Linked DNA regions of Homo sapiens: all the other regions are reported to be linked to region 5. Evidence: microRNA targets listed by miRTarBase, many of them from high-throughput screens and not tested one by one. Region 5 holds a microRNA gene; each other region holds the end of a gene's coding sequence.

What was found. The annotated mature microRNA hsa-miR-3916 reads AAGAGGAAGAAAUGGCUGGUUCUCAG and lies in region 5 at 1,934-1,959, opposite strand. An mRNA with a match to its seed (bases 2 to 7 or 8) in the 3' UTR can be bound and repressed. Matches are read on the target gene's strand: a 7mer-m8 pairs with bases 2 to 8, a 7mer-A1 pairs with bases 2 to 7 and ends in A, and an 8mer does both.
Region 1: the mRNA of PRSS16 is a reported target of hsa-miR-3916. Seed matches in the 3' UTR shown: 7mer-m8 at 750-756.
Region 2: miRTarBase lists SMKR1 as a target of hsa-miR-3916. Seed matches in the 3' UTR shown: 7mer-m8 at 2,309-2,315 and 7mer-m8 at 2,061-2,067.
Region 3: the mRNA of HGS is a reported target of hsa-miR-3916. Seed matches in the 3' UTR shown: 7mer-A1 at 2,699-2,705.
Region 4: the mRNA of SLC67A2 is a reported target of hsa-miR-3916. Seed matches in the 3' UTR shown: 7mer-m8 at 185-191.
Region 6: miRTarBase lists NHLRC3 as a target of hsa-miR-3916. Seed matches in the 3' UTR shown: 7mer-m8 at 1,512-1,518.

Annotation. Positions count from the first base shown.
Region 1 is chr6:27,254,996-27,258,148 of GRCh38, forward strand. PRSS16 (serine protease 16) reads left to right here. Exons shown (of 12, transcript NM_005865.4): 11 at 1-136; 12 at 252-1,625. The coding sequence ends at 320. Among named protein-coding and RNA genes, the nearest start is that of PRSS16, 8.9 kb to the left of the region's middle.
Region 2 is chr7:129,511,769-129,514,918 of GRCh38, reverse strand. SMKR1 (small lysine rich protein 1) reads right to left here. Exons shown (of 2, transcript NM_001195243.2): 2 at 2,001-2,672. The coding sequence ends at 2,478. Among named protein-coding and RNA genes, the nearest start is that of SMKR1, 11 kb to the right of the region's middle.
Region 3 is chr17:81,701,410-81,704,409 of GRCh38, reverse strand. HGS (hepatocyte growth factor-regulated tyrosine kinase substrate) reads right to left here. Exons shown (of 22, transcript NM_004712.5): 22 at 2,289-2,902. The coding sequence ends at 2,792. It overlaps MRPL12 (mitochondrial ribosomal protein L12), which reads right to left and starts at 1,043. Exons shown (of 5, transcript NM_002949.4): 1 at 835-1,043; 2 at 1-166. The coding sequence starts at 908. RefSeq lists a silencer at 676-1,055 and enhancers at 956-1,559, 1,546-1,615, 1,560-2,163, 2,768-3,000.
Region 4 is chr2:102,715,864-102,718,863 of GRCh38, forward strand. SLC67A2 (solute carrier family 67 member 2) reads right to left here. Exons shown (of 6, transcript NM_032718.5): 6 at 1-3,000. The coding sequence ends at 2,557. Among named protein-coding and RNA genes, the nearest start is that of SLC67A2, 20 kb to the right of the region's middle.
Region 5 is chr1:247,200,083-247,203,235 of GRCh38, forward strand. It overlaps MIR3916 (microRNA 3916), which reads right to left and starts at 1,978; the gene lies at 1,885-1,978.
Region 6 is chr13:39,047,578-39,050,730 of GRCh38, reverse strand. It overlaps NHLRC3 (NHL repeat containing 3), which reads right to left. Exons shown (of 7, transcript NM_001012754.4): 7 at 622-3,057. The coding sequence ends at 2,805. Among named protein-coding and RNA genes, the nearest start is that of NHLRC3, 11 kb to the right of the region's middle.

The sequences.
Region 1 (3,153 bases), not on the chromosome of region 5:
CCCCTGGCATGTGCTAAGTGTAACACAGGCTTTAGGATCCTCAGAATCAACTCTTCTTATCCGCACTGGCTCCCACTGCTTGGACATGGCACCTGAGAGGCCCTCAGACTCCCCCAGCCTCCGCCTAGGGCGCCAGGTAAGAGAAAAAAGGCTCTGAATCATTTGCATTCTCATTTGAATAATCACTTGCATGTTCCCTCCTTCTGCTGGTGCTGAAATCTGACTTTCAAATTCTTCCCACCTCCCCACAGAACATCTTCCAGCAGCTACAGACCTGGCTCAAGCTGGCAAAGGAGAGCCAGATTAAGGGTGAAGTCTGAATCTCATACCCTTTCCACTCCCTGCATGGTCACCTCAGTCCTGGACATACTTGTTCACTGAACAAAAGAAAGCAGCTTGTTTTGAAAGAAGAAACTCCCAGGAATTGGAATTCAGCACCTGTTCCGCACGTAATTGGCATGTGTCTGCAAACATCCTTATTCCCAACTTAAAGTGCTTTATTGCAGAGAGTTATGGAAATATAAGTGGATGATTATTCTCATTGTAAATATTGGTATTTTGAATGTTAAATGTCAAACAAATGTGACTTATGCTGGTGCCCTCGCCCTGCTGATCAGATTCTGGTTCAAATTCTGCCACTCCAGCTCCTGGGTTAGGGGCTTTGCTGTAAGTTTCTTTTTCTGGACTTTAGATCCTGAACCTGTCCTTGCTTCTCAGTTTCTCTCACTGTACCCCTTTCCCTCAGTCTCTTCCTCTCTCTTTCCCCTGTCACTATTTGTCTTTCTAATCTCCTTCTGTTTCTCTGAATATCTTCATTTCTATCTCTGTGTTTCTGTCTATTTCTCTGTTTATCTTTCTGTCCTTCAATCTGTGTTTTTGTTTCTGGCTCTCCGTCAGTGTCTTTTTCTCTCCTCTCTCTCTTGCTCTGCCATGGCTATTTCCACTGCTCTATTTCTGACTCTCATTTTTGGTCTCTGTGTGTCTCCTAGTCACTTTCTTTCTCACTCTGTCTCTGTCTCTATTTCTGTCTCTCCTCTGCTGTGTCCTCAATCTCTCTGTCTCCCTGAGGCTCTATTTCTGTCTCTCCTCTGCTGTGTCCTCAATCTCTCTGTCTCCCTGAGGCTCTATTTCTGTCTCTGATGCTCTTCTTCTGTGTCTCTATTTCTCTTCCTGTCACTTAATCTTTTCCTTCTCTATCTCTCTTATTTAGTCTTCCTTCCACACCCTTCACTCACCATCTTTTCCCACAATCAAATATCACTCCCTGGTACTTCCAGCTTCCAACTCTAGGGATTCATGATTCTGGTGGAGATTCCTTCTTCCAGGGCCTGGGAGGATAGGGCTAATCCCAAGGGTGCCTGCTTAGGCTATGTTAGCTGTGACAGGAACCTGCCATAGATTTGCACTGTTCTTTCCTAAAGATCAATTATTTTCAGCAATAAATACTTCTCAGCTTTTTGTATGTCTTTGTATGCACAGAGATGGTAGTTTTAGAGTTTTATCCAGTTTCATATTTCCTTGTGGGTAAGAGGCAACCTCCTCATGCTGTCATACCAAAGTCAATCTCCACTACACTTTAGTTCTGCCTGTTCTTGATCTTTATATAAATGGAAACTTGCAGTATATATTATATGTTTTTGTGTCTAGAAGTTTGAAATCAAGGTGTCAGCAGAGCCATTCTCTTTCTCACAGCTCTAGGGGAGAATCCTTCCTTGCCTTCTAATCCTTCCTTGACCAAAAATGAGAGTCAAAAATAGAGCAGTGGAAATAGCCAGGGCAGAGCAAGAGAGAGAGGAGAGACAAAGACACTGACGGAGAGCCAGAAACGAAAACACAGATTGAAGGACAGAAAGATAAATAGAGAAACAGACAAAAACACAGAGATAGAAATGAAGATATTCAGAGAAACAGAAGGAGATTAGAAAGACAAATAGAAAATGCTTCTGTGCTTCTTCTGGCTTCTGGTGTTTGCCAGCATTCCTGTGTTCCTTGGCCTGTAGATGCATTACTCCAGTCACATGGCCATTTTCCCTGTGTGCCTTCACATCACCTTCCTTCTGCATGTGCCTATCCATGTGTCCAAATTTCCCCTTTTATGAGGATACCAGTTATCTTGGGCTAGGCCCAGCCTGTTGATCTGATTTTAAGTTGGTTACCTCTGTGAATACCCTGATTCCAAATATGATCACAGATTGAGGTACTGGGGATAAGGAGTTCAATATATCTTTTTTGGGGAGAAGATGGGACACAGTTCAACCCATACCACCACCAACATGATAACAAGTGAAGGCTATTTATTCAGCACTTGCTATACCAAGAGAATCCACCATCATCACTTGTGTTTGGCAGAGACTCACAACAGGCAGAGGAGTGGGAAAGCGCTATAGTGGAAAAAAGAGAAGGTTCTAGGTATGCCTTAACTGGAAGCTGTGGCATGGGGAAGCTGTGGGCAGGCTAACTAGAAGAGGGGCATCATATGTGATTGGTTGGGAGTACATGTATGGCTTTCCCTCATTGGTCCTTAGTTGAAAGCAAGAACAAAAATTAAGGAATTGTGAGTTATTATATTTAGTAAGTGCTGGCCATTTGGAGCCAATCGGTACAGGGGTATTATTGTTTGTCTTCCTCTACTGTTTGCTACAGATAGCAGCTTGACTTCCTGGACTGGTTACTGTAATAGTAGGTTGGCTTTCTGGGCTGGTTACTGCAGGTTGTAGGTCAGAAGTCTACTTTTACTTTTAGTTTGGCCATTATCCATTTGTATATTCAATTCTCAACCTTTGTCTGTTGGATCTCATGTGGCTTGGGGATTGCTCTCTAAGTTCAGGGAGTTTACAAGTCTACTGTGCATTCAGCCAGAGACAGTAACCTTTCTGGTCTTTTCTGAGCAAGCCCACCCTTATGCATGTATTCAGTCTTCCAGATCGCCAGAGATGAGTGGGTGGTCTCGATGACTGTGCATATGCACAAGGGTAGGGTGCCCTTCAGCCATCCCTAGATGTCATTTTTAAATTTCTGGTAGATTTCTAAATTAAATATATTAACTTGCATGCTTCTGTTAGTATCCTTGAGCTGTCAGCTTTCCCTGATTACTCTTCACTGTGACCTCTATTTTCAGCATTGCCCTTAGGCCAGATTTTTCCATGTTCTACT
Region 2 (3,150 bases), not on the chromosome of region 5:
CGGCCAATCAGACCAGTGCTTCCCCCATCCCAGCACTCACAGTCCTGGCTCATCATTTCATCATCTCAAAAGAAAAGAGCATGACCACTTTCAGACCTTGTTAGCCTGTAAATGCCTGTATCTGTGCTACAGATGAGCAGCATTTCAAGTCGTCTGGAGTAAAGTCTGTGCTGCTGGCAATAGCTGTGTTATCCTGACTTTTCTTCCCCAAGCCCTGTTCTCTGTAACAGAGACGTGTTGTGAAATGCTGTCACTTGCTTCTCCCTTTCCCTTGGGAGCACCCGGCCAATGGAAGCCTTGCAGGTGCGGGCAGTCAGGGATCAAAAGGAAGCTTTGCAGCTGCCTTCTCCCCAAACTTCCAATAACCAGCTACTCAAATACACGCTCCTGAACCCAGGTGAGGCAGGAAAGGACATTACACATCCCACAGGTTCGGATTCCACTAAGCCTTTTAGCTTCTGGGTAGGCAGCATTAACTGGAGCGGCAGCTCTCTACCTGTGTGGCTGGGCAGCACCAGCATAACCTGCCAGCGTACCAGAAACGCAAATCCCTGAGCCCCATCCTTCCTGCGAGGGTAGGGCCCAGCAATCTGCACTTGGCCAAGTGTTCTAGGTGACCGAGAGGCACACTCAAGTGTGAGAACTGCTGAACTGGAGTTAGTGAGTTCAGCAGTCCTTAACAGGGTGGGAAGGTGCTCCCCGTCTCCAAAACCAGAAAACACAGCAGAGGAGACCTCCCTTCAGATTCACCCAAGTGAGGGCTCCTCTGGCAACTGGCCAAGGGCTTCTATGGAAACTGCACAGATGGTGCAGGTAAACAGTATTGTTCCCAACAGGCTCACGTGGGTCATGGGCACCCCACTTCTCTAGCACAGAGATTCATGGAGCTTCCTTTTTTTCTCTGATGTGTATGAAATCCTGAGTCCTGAGTTGCAGCTTCCCTTAGCAAACCTCATGAATCCTTGCGATCCTCACAAGGCCACCTGGAGCATAATTATAATTCCAACAAACTAGAACATCCCCGGAGGTGCTGCCTACAGTGTGTCAGCTTTGGGCTCAGAACCATGAATGGAGACAACGGTGCAGGGGCTGAGGAGGGGCAGGAAGAGCCAGGAAGACAGAGCAGGAGGCAAGGATGGAGTGCTCAGGGAGTCAAAGACGGCGTCCGCACTTGCAAAACGCTGGCTTTCACATCTGGAGAATTTAGGCCTCTGGGCCGAGGAGAAAGAACTATAGTTTCACCTCTTAGGCGTCTCCTTACAGGGCTAGGGAGATCTAGAATATCAGCCGAATGCCCAGGGCAAGTAAGTGCCTGGCACCAATTCTATAACTCGGGGCCAGCCAAGTTTTAACAAAGTAGGCAGAAGGTGGGACGAAATAGAGTGTGGAGGGAAGGAGGGAGAAGAGTCAGGTGAAATATGGAAAAAAGAGGGATGGCCAGGTGCGATGGCTTTCACCTGTAATAAAACACTTTAGGAGGCTGAGGCAGGTGCAGTGGCTCATGCCTGTAATCCCAGCACTTTGGGAGACTGAGGCGGGTGCAGTGGCTCACGCCTATAATCCCATCACTTTGGGAGACCGAGGCGGGCAGATCACCTGAGGTCAGGAGTTTAAGACCAGCCTGGCCAACACGGTGAAACCCCATCTCTACTAAAAATAAAAAAATTAGCCTGGGCTGGTGGCGTGCGCCTATAATCCCAGCTACTTGGGAGCCTGAGGCAGGAGAATCGCTTGAAACCGGGAGGCAGAGGTTGCAGTGAACTGAGATTTCGCCACTGCACTCCAGCCTGGGCAACAGAGTGAGACTCCGTCTTAAAAGAAAAAAGAAAGGGATGGGCAGATTTGCCCCCTTTGCCCTGCATCCAGCCATTTCACACTGTCAGCCACTTCTCACCATCTGCTTGCAAGACTGGCAGGGTCAGAGCATTCGTGACCATCTTAGCATCCGTGGAGCCTGTGGCTAATTCAAATCAAACAGAGTCAGACTGCTGAGAAGAAAATTATAGAAACAAAGTATTTATTATTTTCCATTAAAAAAAAAAAAGGAAATGGTGCCCAAGAGAGGAATGTTCCTAAGGAAACCCAGTGTTTCTTGCCGTGTCTTCTCTAAATGACAAACGCTCTTTGGCAAAAGAAAACAATTAATGCAACTAGAACTGCCTTCTGAGAGCAAAGTTTAATCCTGACCCAGAATTATAATAATTTCTGAAAGTTCTATTAATTTCAGCACACTGTGTAGGAATTACTCAGGCTTTTCCCATCCTATAGCTCCTAAAAAACCAAAGTGGCTAACCATATCTGGCATAACAGAGGAAGTAAGGTGCATTTCCTGATCTTCCACCATCACAGAAAAGCACACTTAATTTGCATCTCAAGTCGTCTGGAGTAAAGTCTATGTTGCTGGCAACAGTTGTGTTATCCTGACTTCTCTTCCCCAGGTCCTGTTGTCTGTAACAGAGATGTGTTGTGAAATGCTGTCACTTGCTTCTCCCTTTCTTTCCTTTGGGAGCACCCGGCCAATGGAAGCCTCGCAGATGCAGGCAGTCAGCGACGTTGTGGGCGATGTAGTAGAGGTTCAGCATGGCCGCGGGGCTGAGAATGTCCACTTCTGGTTTCTTCTGTTTCTTCCCATGAGACTTGCCCTGGCCTTTTCCTTTTTTCCCTTTAGCTGGCTTTCAAAGACAAATATAAATATGGGAGGAGGGAAGTTAGTTTTTTGGTTTTTGTTTTTTTTGAGACAGGGTTTCACTCCCAACACCCAGGCTGGAGTGTAGTGACATGCTCTTGGCTCACTACAACCTCCACCTCCCGTGCTCAAGTGATCCTCCTGCCTCGGCCTCCCAAGTAGCTGGGATTACAAGGTGTGCCCCATCACTCCCGGCTAATTTTTGTACTTTTAGTAGAGACAGGGTTTCACCATGTTGGGTAGGCTGCTCACAAACTCCTGACCTCAAGTGATCTGCCCACCTCAGACTCCCAAAGTGCTGGGATTACAGGTGTGAGCCATCTTGCCAGGCCGAGTTAGTTTTTATAAACTTGGTATCATTTTCAGTATTTCTGTATTGAACAAGGAAAAAAAATTCCTAAAAGGAAATAAGTCAAAATAGCAGCCACAACAAACAGTTTGCATCGTCCTGTCTTCTCTAAATG
Region 3 (3,000 bases), not on the chromosome of region 5:
TGAGATTTCCAAGAGAGTGAGGCTGGCGATGTCCTGGACCAGCTGCTGTATCTTGGGGGGGTACTCCTTGGGGGCGTTATCCAGGGGTGCACCAGCGAGGGCCTCACACCTCTGATGGCCGCTGCTCCTCATATGTCGCACGGCACAGACACATGGCACCTGTCGCCTAGCCCCCACCCCCAATTAAAACAGACTTGTCAGTCCTGGAATGGAAGGGGCTGCAGAAACCAGAGGGGCAGGACAACTGGGGGACTGGTGGGTGCCATAAGCTCAGGCTGGTAATCACTAGGGCCGGAAATTACCTAGCTCCTTGGTCCCAGTCCAGGGTTCTCAGACCTCAAGGGGTCCGTATTGATAAGATTTGCAAGTTACTTTAAATTCTTCAAAGAGCCTTAGAAAGCCACGTGTTTATTTGCAGCCATACCACTCAAACCTCAAGTTTCTGGTTTGAATGAACTACATCAACCCAGCGGTGGCGAAACTATTACTTAGGTGCATCTTCCTGCGCAAAGCCTCCCAAAACATGGGGGCCCCTGGCCGCAAAACGCCGCACCCACGGATGGGCCTTTGCTGCGGAAAAGGCTGAGGCCAAGGGAGGAGCAGGGAATCGTCCAAGGTCATCTGGGGCCGACCCCGGCGCTTTCCACGGCCCAGGAGGGAAGGGGCGTGCGCACCGGGAGGCCTCCTCCCCGCGCCCCCGATGGGACCCCCAAGCCCGGCCTGGCCGCTGCAGGGAGGCCGGCCCCGCCGCCCTCCTCGCCCGGATCGACCCCTCAGTGCCCGGCTGCCCCCTAACCCGCCTGCCGGCCCGGACCGCCCCAGGATCCCGCGTACCTGGCAAGGCGGAACGCAGCGGCCCGAAGCCCAAGGCAAGGCCCCCACAGGGGGCGAGCGGCCGCCGGCAGCATCGGTCCGCGGGCTGGAAGGTCACACGCGGTTCCCCGGGAGGAGGCGACGCTCTAGCCGCCTCGGCCGCCGGGCATTCGAGCTGGGGAGGAACGCTCTAGCCGCCACGGCTGCCGGGCATTCGAGCCGGAAATGACGCTCTAGCCGTACCTCGCGCTAGCCTCGTCTCACCCTGAGATTACCCACAAGGCGGCGCGCTGCGCAGACGCAAAAGCGTCGTCTGTGGCGGCAGCTAGACATCGGGCGACCCTCGTCCCGCCAGGTTTTGGGGTCGCGCAAACGAGCGACGGGGGCTGGGGCTCCGGATTCAGGTGTTCTTTCTTCAGCGCTCACGGGTTTCTGTCCGTACGCGATGCGAGCGAACGTCGCGGTCGAGGCTAGGGCCCCGAAGCCCGCAGTAATCCACGTCTCCCGCCCGCTCCGGGCCCCCAGTGCCGCCGTCGCGGGCGGAGGCGCGAGGTCTGGGCTTTGGCGCCTTCGCAGCCGCAGGCGACATCCTCTTTCCTAGCTAAAGCCCCAAACGCCCAGGTGGCTTCCTGGGAGAGCACGGCTGAGCCTCCGCCTTCAGATCAGAACAGGCAGAGCCTCCAAGGGCGGCTTGGGCCCAGTGCCTGCTTATCCTGCCCGTCTCTCCACACTTCTTCTTTCCCTGTCCGTTGGAGTCCATTCCTTCCTGGAAAAGCCAAAGCCGCGCTCCCCTAAGAGGCCTGGATGTGAAGGTGAGTGAGACGCCCTGGCCTCTGGGTGCAAAGGCCGGCGCCTGCCGCTTTCAACACTCAGGAGGCGCGTTTCAGCCCCGCTGGCCCCCGGCCGCAGACTCGGAGCGCTGAGCTCCCACCGTTCCCATCACCCGACTCCCTTCCCAGGAATGAGGAGCACCCGGGAAGCTTCAGCCACTACACGAAGGAGGCGCCAAGCCCAAACTCCTCCCCAGCTACCGGCGGGGTCAGTGCAGAGCCGCGGAGGGCACACATGAACCCTGGCACGCAGCCTCAGGGAGGGGCAGGCTGGAAATGACCCTGCCTGCAGCTGGGCCATCAGCCTGACCACCTGCCCCCTGAGCAAACGTTGATGCAGGTCGGGCGCGGTGGCTCATGCCTGTAATCCCAGCACTTTAGGAGCCCGAGGCAGGTGGATCACCTGAGGTTAGGCGTTCACGACCAGCCTGGCCAACATGGTGAAACACCGTCGCTACTAAAAATACAAAAACTAGCCAGGCATGGTAATGGGGTGCACCTGTAGTCCAGCTACTCGGGAGGCTGAGGCCCGAGAATCGCTTGAACCCAGGAGGCGGAGCTTGCAGTGAGCGGAGATCACCACTCCAGCCTGGGTGACAGAGTGAGACTCCATCTCAAAAAAATTAATTAAAGAAAAAACGCTGATGCTTTCTGAAATACATTTTATTATCGCTGTACCATTCTGGGGCACTGGAGATGGCAGCTGAGAAGCAGAGAAGCTGGAGACCTGAAGCCTCCACCCTTGGCTGTGGCTGCCGAGAGAGGCCCCTGCAGAGGGAGCCCCAGGCCACACCCAGACACCACAGCCAGCTCACAGTGCGGCCAGAGGGCACAGGCTGCTTGGGGGGTGAGGGTCCCCATTCCTGCCACCTCTCACAGACCATGACCCACAGGGCTGGGGGCTTCCCCTGGGAGAAAGTCCTTCCCTCCCCATGGCCCAGCCCTGGGGAAAGAAAGCAGAGACTAACTCAGGGACTGCAGTAGGCTGAGGACAAGGGAGGTGGGCTTGGGGTGAAGGCCCCCCCTCACTCGCAGAGAAGGGACACTACCGGCAGTAGAGGACAGGGAGGCAGGACGACGGCAGTTAGAGACGAGGCGTTTCAGGTGAACTGTATGTAGTGTTACTCCGGACGTGAGCATGGCCTGGGTCAGTCGAATGAAATGAGCTGGGCCTCGCTGCCCTGTGCCGGCGGCCCCTGTGCCTGCGGTTGCTGGGCCACGGGGGGCTGCTGCTGGGGGGGACCGCCAGAGGGTGCCATCTGTGCAGGAGGAAAGCAGGCATGGCCCTGGTCCTCCCTTCCCCAGCCCAGGGAGGAAGGCTTTTGTCCCAGCAGAGCCACAGACCCACAAGTGCTTG
Region 4 (3,000 bases), not on the chromosome of region 5:
CCTGAGATTATATTCCATAAGTGATACAAATACTACCCCTTAGACCAGGGGTTTTCAAAGTTTGCTGTGCAAAAAATCAGCTAGGTATCTTATTAAAATGGTCCCCAACATGTCTGAGCTGGAGCTTCAGTGTTCACAGGTCTCAGGTGATGCTGATGCTACTGGTCTCTGGGTCACACTTTAAAGAGGAAGACATTAGATAAAGTAAAAGGAGTCATGAGAAAAGGTGCACCTAAAAAACATCACATAACAAAATACTAAAGTCACTAGTGGAGAATAACAAACATGTCTCTCTACTCTATATTCTAAGATCAGTCTTTGGTTTTCTATATTTCCATGTGTCTGATTATAAAGACTCATTAAGTTTATGGGCTTTTTAAACTTCAAAAATAAAGTGCTACGATTTTTAAAATAAAAACACGACTATAAGGGCTTTTAAGAAACTTGCCTGTTTCTGAGAGTGAAGGACAATCTTTGAGATCCAAACTCTTCTGAAATTCTATTTCATTGCATAAACCCTCGATTATTTATTGCCTTTTGAGTCTAATCTCCATGAGATTTAATTTGCTCCTTAAGGGCAAGGCCATTTTATATATTAATAATAGTTTGGTCTCCTCGAAAGCACTTAACATTTACATAAAAGTTCACAATTGTAAAACCTAATCAGAAGTCCATTTTTCCTTGCAGCAAGATAGGAAAAAGGACAATCTTCAAACTAAAACATACTTCCAATTATTTATCATAAATATTTGATTTTACTCCATGACTTCTAAAATACAGAAATGTTTACTGCTTTACAAACAATAAATATTAAAGATATGACAAATTACTGTAGCATACTAAAATATTTACAAGTATGCATGTGTTAAGTTGAAAACAGGCATACCATCCTAGTGGACTAATTAAGAAAAGTAAAAGGAATGTGAACTTCAACTGTCTGACAGGAAGCCCTTAAGTAACTGATTAATACTTGATGCAATCCCAATGGTCATCCTGCCTGGCATATGTCTCCCTGCAAGGCTATGTTCACCTTCTGTCTGGGCCTCTGCCTCTCGTGGCCCCCTCGGTGCTGTATATGAAACTTGTTTAGACAAGAAATGGCACATCAAAATATTTCCGTTGATCAACAGAATGCTTGTGTTTGCAGGCGTGAAACTAAAAATAAAGGAAATGATTCTTTTTTTTTTGAGACGGAGTCTCACTCTGTCGCCCAGGCTGGAGAGCAGTGGCACAATCTTGGCTCACCGCAAGCTCCGCCTCCCAGGTTCACGCCATTCTACCTCAGCCTCCCGAATAGCTGGGACTGCAGGCGCCCGCCATCACGCCCGGCTAATTTTTTTTTTGTATTTTTAGTAGAGACGGGGTTTCACCATGTTAGCCAGAATGGTCTCCATCTCCTGACCAAGTGATTCACCTGCCTCAGCCTCCCAAAGTGCTGGGATTACAGGCCTGAGCCACCGAGCCTGGCCAGGAAATGATTCTTAACACAAGACACAGTAGCATCAAGTTCTGGTCTGGCATGACTCCTGACCCTTATTCTGCATAAACTGTTCATTTTTAAAGCATTCCTGTGCTTTGGCTTCACCACTGGGTTCTGTCAGCACCAGAAGGATGCAACCTGACTGGAATGCAGGCTTCCAGGAGCAGGCTGTGGCAACCCCAGCATCTAAGTGGTTTAGTCCAACTTCAGAGCAAGCTGGGCTCTCAGAGGCAGGGAGCACAGGGAACAGGTCCCAGGGGCCCGCTGCTCCATCATGCAGTACAACTGCTGAGAGCTGGGAAAGGTGTAACACACTGTGATTACAAACACAATTTTAAGAGTCCAAATTTAGTTAGCTGTGTAAAAACAGCCAAGCCTATGTACTTTAATCAAAATCAGTGCAGTCTCAGTGTGGTCTTTACTGCCATGAGAAATCGCCAGCAGTGCTTACAAAACACCACGGATTTCTTGGCCCCACCCAGGCCCACTGAATCATCTCTAGGGGTGAGGTCAGTATCTTATTTTTAAGCAGCTTTGAAAAGCGACAGGCTGGTTCTAATAAACCAGCTTCTTCAATCTGCAGGATTTTGATAGAAAACTCCCTCCTAGTGTATGGAATTTAACTGGAAACTCAAGTTCCAGTTGATCAGAATTTGACTGACATGTCACCCTATTTTTCAGTAGGAAAATGCTTGTGGTTTCTTCCCTTCCTCCAGGTATCATGTTCTCTTATTCCACCACCACTTCCCTATCCTGTAGCTGGTAGTTTGTTTACCCTTGAAAATTGTAACCTGATTAGCCCAGGTGGGAAGAAGAGACTTCCAGGTAAACGCTGAATATGCTCACCTTGGAAAAGCTTTGCTCCAGTCTTAACCTTCCCATGAGGTGCCGTGACTTCTGATCATCCTGCAGGCATGGCTGCATGGCCAAGAGCTGACCTGGAAGCCCAACAGCTCACACCCACCCGGAAATATTTCCCTTCCACCCCAACCCTTTCCAAAGTGCCCTTTTCATCATGGCCTCCGGCCCTCATTCAACCATCTCAAATTTTGTTGCTTTATGTTGTCCAAATCCATCTACTCACTTTTTAATTTACTATTCCCATCACCACTAGAGTGTCGCTTGTTTAGAGACATTATGAAAATGGCCACTAAGGCTAACACAGCGCCCAGGCTGGGGGGGCCGCAAGGGCTGACCTCCTGGGCAACCCCCGAGAGGAGAGGGGCGATGATGCGGCCCACTGCAGTCACAGACTGCCCCACGCCAATAAGGGTGCCGCTGGCCTGGGCCCCGCCCACAGTCAGCTGGAGGTCCGTGATGCACGTCCTGCCAATGGCAGTGGAGAAGGACAGGAGAGTGGAGGAGAGGACAACTGCACCCATGGTGGGGGCCAAGGAGTAGAGCAGCAGCAGTGTGCAGGTGAGTATGCTGGAATGCAGCAGCAGTGCCTGCGAGTTGTGCTTGTACAGCCGTAGGATTGGCCCCAGGGCAAGGCCGGCCACGGCCCCCAGCATGCTGCT
Region 5 (3,153 bases):
TCTGTAGTTTTCTAACATCACGTCCCTATACAGATTCTGCTGAGCAGGGTCCAGATAGCTCCACTCCTCCGGAGAGAATTCTATGGCCACATCCCTGAATATCAACAGTCCCTGGCAAAGAAAAAACACATACGTATCAAGTGGTCATGGGCAGAGTTCTTAATCTGATTCCAGGCACAAAGAGAGACAGAGAGAACTGGTTCTTACTTATAGAAGAGACTGAAATGATCAAATAATTGTAAACACAGAAATATTCTCTAACATATTCTTTAATCCTGAAGAAAGAGGATGGCATAAGCTCCACATAACCAGTGTACATATTCTACTCTTGTGAATAATACAGTATAAAATTAAGGGCATCAACGCAGGCATATACATTTTTTCCTGCTCTATTTACCTCACACAGGATAAACTGTAAATATTTCTCATATGTAGAGGTCATGATTCATCAGAAGGTACCCCTGAAATTTTAATGCGTACACAATAAACTAGAGATCCTCTTAAAATGCAGGTTGTGATTCAGAGGACCTAGGGTGAAGCCTGAGTCTCTGAATTTCTAAGTGAGCCATACAGTGATGCCACTGTGTCTGGGCCAAGGAAAATATTTTTTCAAACATGCAGGAAGTGGCAGAGCCTGTGTTTATTTCAGTTTATCTAACCAATAAACAAACACGAGAGCCTTCATTTTCCAAAGCAAGCTATAAGCGAGGAGAATCTAAAAAGAAAGAAGAGCTTCCTAATTAAATGTGATGGCTTATATGTATCAGTCAGTAAATCTCCCCAAGGTACTAAACAATAATGAAAAAAATATCTCTATCGTGCAAAAATCTGGCAGAGAGCACCTTAACCAAGTAAATAAAATTAAGATCAACTATAATAGGATAAATCAACATCAAAGATGTCAAGGATAAAATGACATCAAGGATCACATGACATCAAGGACAAAGTATCACTGCTCTAATATTATTGACCACAAAAATAGTAAATTACAATCTGAACCTAATCATGTAGAAACATCCTTTTTTTGTTTTGTTTTTTGGAGACAGTCTTGCTCTGTCGCTCAGGCTGGAGTGCAATGGTGCAATCTTGGCTCACTGCAGCCTCTGCTTCCCAGGTTCCAGTGATTCTCCCACCTCAGCCTCCCAAATAGCTGGGATTACAGGCGTGCACCACCATGCCCAGTTAATTTTTGTATTTTTAGTAGAGATGGGGTTTCATCATGTTAGCCAGGCTGGTCTTGAACTCCTGACCTCAAGTGATCTGCCCGCCTCAGCCTCCCAAAGTGCTGGGATTACAGGTGTGAGCCACAGTGCCTGGCCAGAAACATCAGTTTTATGCAAAGTTCAAGCTATAGCTGTTTCCCTGGTTCTTTAATCTGCAATAGGGTATTTCAATAGTGTTTCTTTAGCATCCTAGACAGCAAATGTCTTCTAATTATTCTCTTTTCAGAACTTTAAGTTATTCCAGGCAATGAATGCCATCCTCTTTAAATGTCTCTTTTCTTAATTCTGTTCTGCATAGAGATGATGGAGCATGTGGATGAAATCTAAACGGTACATGATCCCCTTCTTCACTGACATCCCAAGACCCAGCCCCATCCCCACGGATAATCCTGGGGATCCACACTTTCCCATGTTGATATGTCACAGAACATCTGAATACTGCCCATCATACATTAATGGTAAGATTTGGTCATGACATATAAGAAGCCTGGAAGGAGGGAATGGAGAGAAGGTTCTGGTACACAGGAGGAAGGATTTTACAGAGTTCCTTATCAATCATAAGAAAGGAGGGGGGAAGGGGGGAAGGTAGTTGGGAAGAAACACATTAGGCAGGTACATCAGAAGTACAGAAATAAAGGTTTGCAAGTTCTAAACACATAACATCCCAGAAGAAAAGAGGAGACACATCCCCTGAACCCAGACACATTCACCTGAGAACCAGCCATTTCTTCCTCTTCTTCCTTCTTCTCTGGGATTCCTTCTCAGGTGAGATTATCTGGACAAATCACACCTGCATTTGAGAATATGTCTTTAAAGGTGTCAACACAACCCTTTCACCTGCAACCAGCACACCTAGAGGCAGAAGGCCCTGCAGTGCAGAAAAGGGAATACTCCCCTATTCTTTATCACAGGAGAGGAAAAATGAGCTACCACATAAAGACCAAAAATTTCCTGCCTTCAGGTGATCTCCCCTGCCATGAACTCCAGCAATTTCTGGTACAGCAAAGGAAATATGGATCTTGGTGACCTACCCTTATCAAACCGAAGAGCAGGCCCTCTGACCTCCTTTTGGAACCCAAGTCTCGTGACTGTATCTGGGAGCCCTCAAGGTTGACTCTGATCTCACCTTAGAATCGCTGGGGGGCACTTACTTAAAACAACAATTATGCTTCCATCCAGACCACAGACAGGATCTTTGGAGACAGCATGTGTGATGGTAGTTCTCCAAACTGGCTATTTGTTTCTAATTGAAAGCCTGGGCTGAGAACCACATACCTGAGTACTGTCTCTCTGGCTTCAATGTACATATAAATAATTTGGTATTCTAATTTGGTATTCCAGGCCCCATTCTAAGTAATGTGTTTCCGCAGGTGTGAAAGGGGTCTGCAAATGGGCTTCTATAACAAGTCTTCTGATACTGTTCCCCCGGACTCCTCATCAGCAGCACTCAGCTAGAGAAGGCAAATACAGCACAGAGTCCCTTGTACTCAACACCGGTATCACAACAGAAATGCTTTGGCCGGGCGCAGTGGCTCACGCCTGTAATCCCAGCACTTTGGGAGGCCGAGGCGGGTGGATCACCTGAGGTCAGGAGTTCAAGACCAGCCTGACCAACATGGAGAAACCGTGTCTCTACTAAAAATACAAAATTAGCCGGGTGTGGTGGCGCATGCCTGTAATTCCAGCTACTGGGGAAGGCAGAGGCAGGCGAATCGCTTGAACCTGGGAGGCAGAGGTTGCAGTGAGCTGAGATCGCACCATTGCACTCTAGCCGGGGCAGCAAGAGGGAACTTGGTCTCAAAACACAAACAAACAAAAAAAACCCAGCAATGCTTCTGATTGCAAGTGAAGACCACCAATCGCCATCCTGAAAAATGGCATTCTCTGCTGAGCGTTTAAAGTTTACTAAAGTCTAGAGAAGGCAGCAATG
Region 6 (3,153 bases), not on the chromosome of region 5:
CGGGCGCCTGTAGTCCCAGCTACTCGGGAGGCTGAGGCAGGAGAATGGCATGAACCCGGGAGGCGGGGCTTGCAGTGAGCCGAGATGGCGCCACTGCACTCCAGCCTGGTCGACCGAGCGAGCGAGACTCCTGCGCTCCAGCCTGGGCGACCAAGCGAGACTCTGTCTCAAAAAAAAAAAAAAAAAAAAAAATTCGTGGTAAATCTCTGTTCACCATCAGATTTCATCCAAGTTTTCTCTGATCGATAAATATTCCACTTGAAAGACCCAATCTGATGGTACAGGTAGGGAAAGATAGAGCTAAATCTATAGCCTTTGGTTTTCTAATTTAGAACACTTTCTCCCCTCCCCACTCCAAGAATAGACCTAAAAAGTAGAAGTATAAAGATGTTCCACTTTTAATGCAGAAATGTAGACAATTAGCTAGTTATTACTGTCAGTTGTACCCTCCCACCACCTCAAAACAAGCTACATTCTTTAAATGTTCTAAGCAACTTCTAGTCATATTTATGCACATCAGCTTACACGCTATATGTGTGAAAAGTGGGATATTCTTTCAGCATCAACTTGTGATTTCATAATTGCTGAAATTCTTTAAAGGAATAAAAAGTTATAGACTGCTTTTGTGACAATAAAATCAAACTTTAATTGGGGAGCCAGATAATATTGCCTTTTCTTTCCAAAATTTTAATTTATACTTTTTAGTAAAAAACATAACACATTTCTCATTCATTTAACCAATTAATCCAAAGGAAAAAAGTGAAGTACTATAATCACAGGTACACTAACAAACACTTTTACAAAGACATTCAGAAATATTTGCAGCAGGTTTTATAAGACTCTGATATAAAACAAAGTAAAATAAAACGTTTTGAAATGGCAAAATCGGTTTACCTAGCCTGAATTGCTTCAAAGAGGCATTTGCACTTCTTGTCCTGGCTTAATAAAACAAAGTAAAATAAAACATTTTGAAATTTCAAAATCAGTTTAGCCTAAATTGCTTCAAAGAGGCATTTGCACTTCTTGTCCTGGCTTAAAAACAAACCCTGAAATTACTTTCTTTTATCCAAATCAATTGACCATATTAATCTGCATAAAGTCTATGAGGATACGTTTTGATAAATGCTATAAACACAAAATTAAGGCAAATCTGATAGTTATTGTCAAATAAATAGCACATTTAGAAGGGCCTTTGTTAATAAAATGCCTCTAATGTATCCAGAGGTATAGATTTCAAAGGGCAAGTCTGTACCTGTTGCACATCTGATTCTCACAGCATTCATGAAAGAGGAGACAATGATATTCCCATTTCACTGAAAACTAAGGTGACTTGTTTAAGGTCATACAGTCCGATCAGTGGCACCAACACATTTACCAATGGCCTTGGAATACAGAGTACAGGGCTTCCTGTTGGTAGATTTACCTTCCTAACCTCACGGAGATGTGATCCAAGTATCAAAACAAGTGTGAGTCCCTTCAGGTCTGGAAAATACTCCAGCCATAACAGGTGAAGAGGAAAGTCAGCTCAAGATTTGTCATATGCTACACAATTTACAGTAAAACACTGGGAAAAGCAGGAAGCTGATGTGAGGAAGGGTGAAGAATGATTTGAAAGATTACAAAATGGCAAAGTTCCTCCAAAACCTATAATAAGCTAAAACAAACTGGAAAAAAAAAAAAAAAGGTCTTAATTGGGAAGCCAATATTCACACCAAAGGAGGGAGTGGGAGGAGAAGATGTAGGAGGAAAGCAGGAAATTATCATCTTAACAGCTCAAAGGATTTGGCACATATCCATGTTATCTAAATAATCTTGAAATTTCTTTGAGGTAGACAAATGTTAGGAATAAGTTGAGTTCATGTAAAACAAAAGAAAGAAAAAGAAAAAAAAAGAGAAGGAAGCTCTACAATCCTTAGTTATTTGTAAAAACCTCTTTTACTAAAGTGCTTAGATGCCAGCCATTTTATTCCTACATTTAAAGGCTGACTGACATTAAATATCTTATAGGTAATGGACAGAAGCCAAGTTGGGCTTTAAAAAAGGCCTAAAAGCCTATCAAAGTTTACAGTACACTTCTAACTTTTTATACCTTCTTTACTTGGAAATTATTGTTTTCTCCTCCTTGTCCCTTGGTAAGCTCCTCCTCAGTTTTCAAGTCTGAGCTCAAATTCACTTCTCCTGCGAAGTATCCATGATTCCCTCAGTCAAATGCAGCACTCCTACTCCAAAAGTCCCACTATGCTCCAAGGTCGCTTTTGCTGTGTTGTGACTGTTTGCCTGCTTGTCTCCCCACTAGACTGCAAGCTACTCAAAAGGCAATCCTGCTTTTTCATTTTTAAGTCGTCAAGACACAGCACTCTGTGGGTACTCAAATTAATCAATAGTTCATCTTATTTACAATCTCTCAAGCAGCTCATTTTATGTTAGTTGCACAATCTGGAGGTCTGGAGTTCTTCACATGAAATTTAATAAATTATCATGCAAGCTCATTTTTATTCCCATTTTTTTTACCCAGGGAGAATCAGTCTACCAGGGCAAATAATGAGGTTACCACCTTAGTCCCTCTTCCCAACCCCATTTTTTAGTTACTTTCCTTTCATTAAAATATCCTTATGCACTTACAAATAAAACTAAGTCCCAAGAGGGCAACAAAATATAAGATTCTTAATGATACAAAAACAAATCTTTCTGATACTAGATCTTTTATACTAGAAAAATAAATTCTTGTGCTTGAACATCATTTTTAAGCACTTAGTGAATTGAGAATCTGAACTGCCACTTGAAATATTCCCAGGAAAGAAACATTATGAACCAAATGAAGGAACATAGCTATTCAAAGGGACATATTTTTGTACTTGTTTTGCTCCAATTTCTGCTACATAGACTGCTCCAGTCTTTCTGTCGACTTCTAGGAGATGTGGCAAAACTTGATCTGCTAGTTGGATTGTGCTGATCACAGAACACTCCCCAATGCTTCCCACTGGGGGTGCTGCTACGACTGAGAGCCTGCTAAGATTCAGCTGGGCCACAATCAAGTACTTCCCATCAGGAGTAAACCTAAGGAGAAAGACATTTAACATAATAAATGTCTGTGAAAAAACATAAGGGTATTTTTTTTCAACATTTTAATCCCCTACTGTGCCAAACAACAGT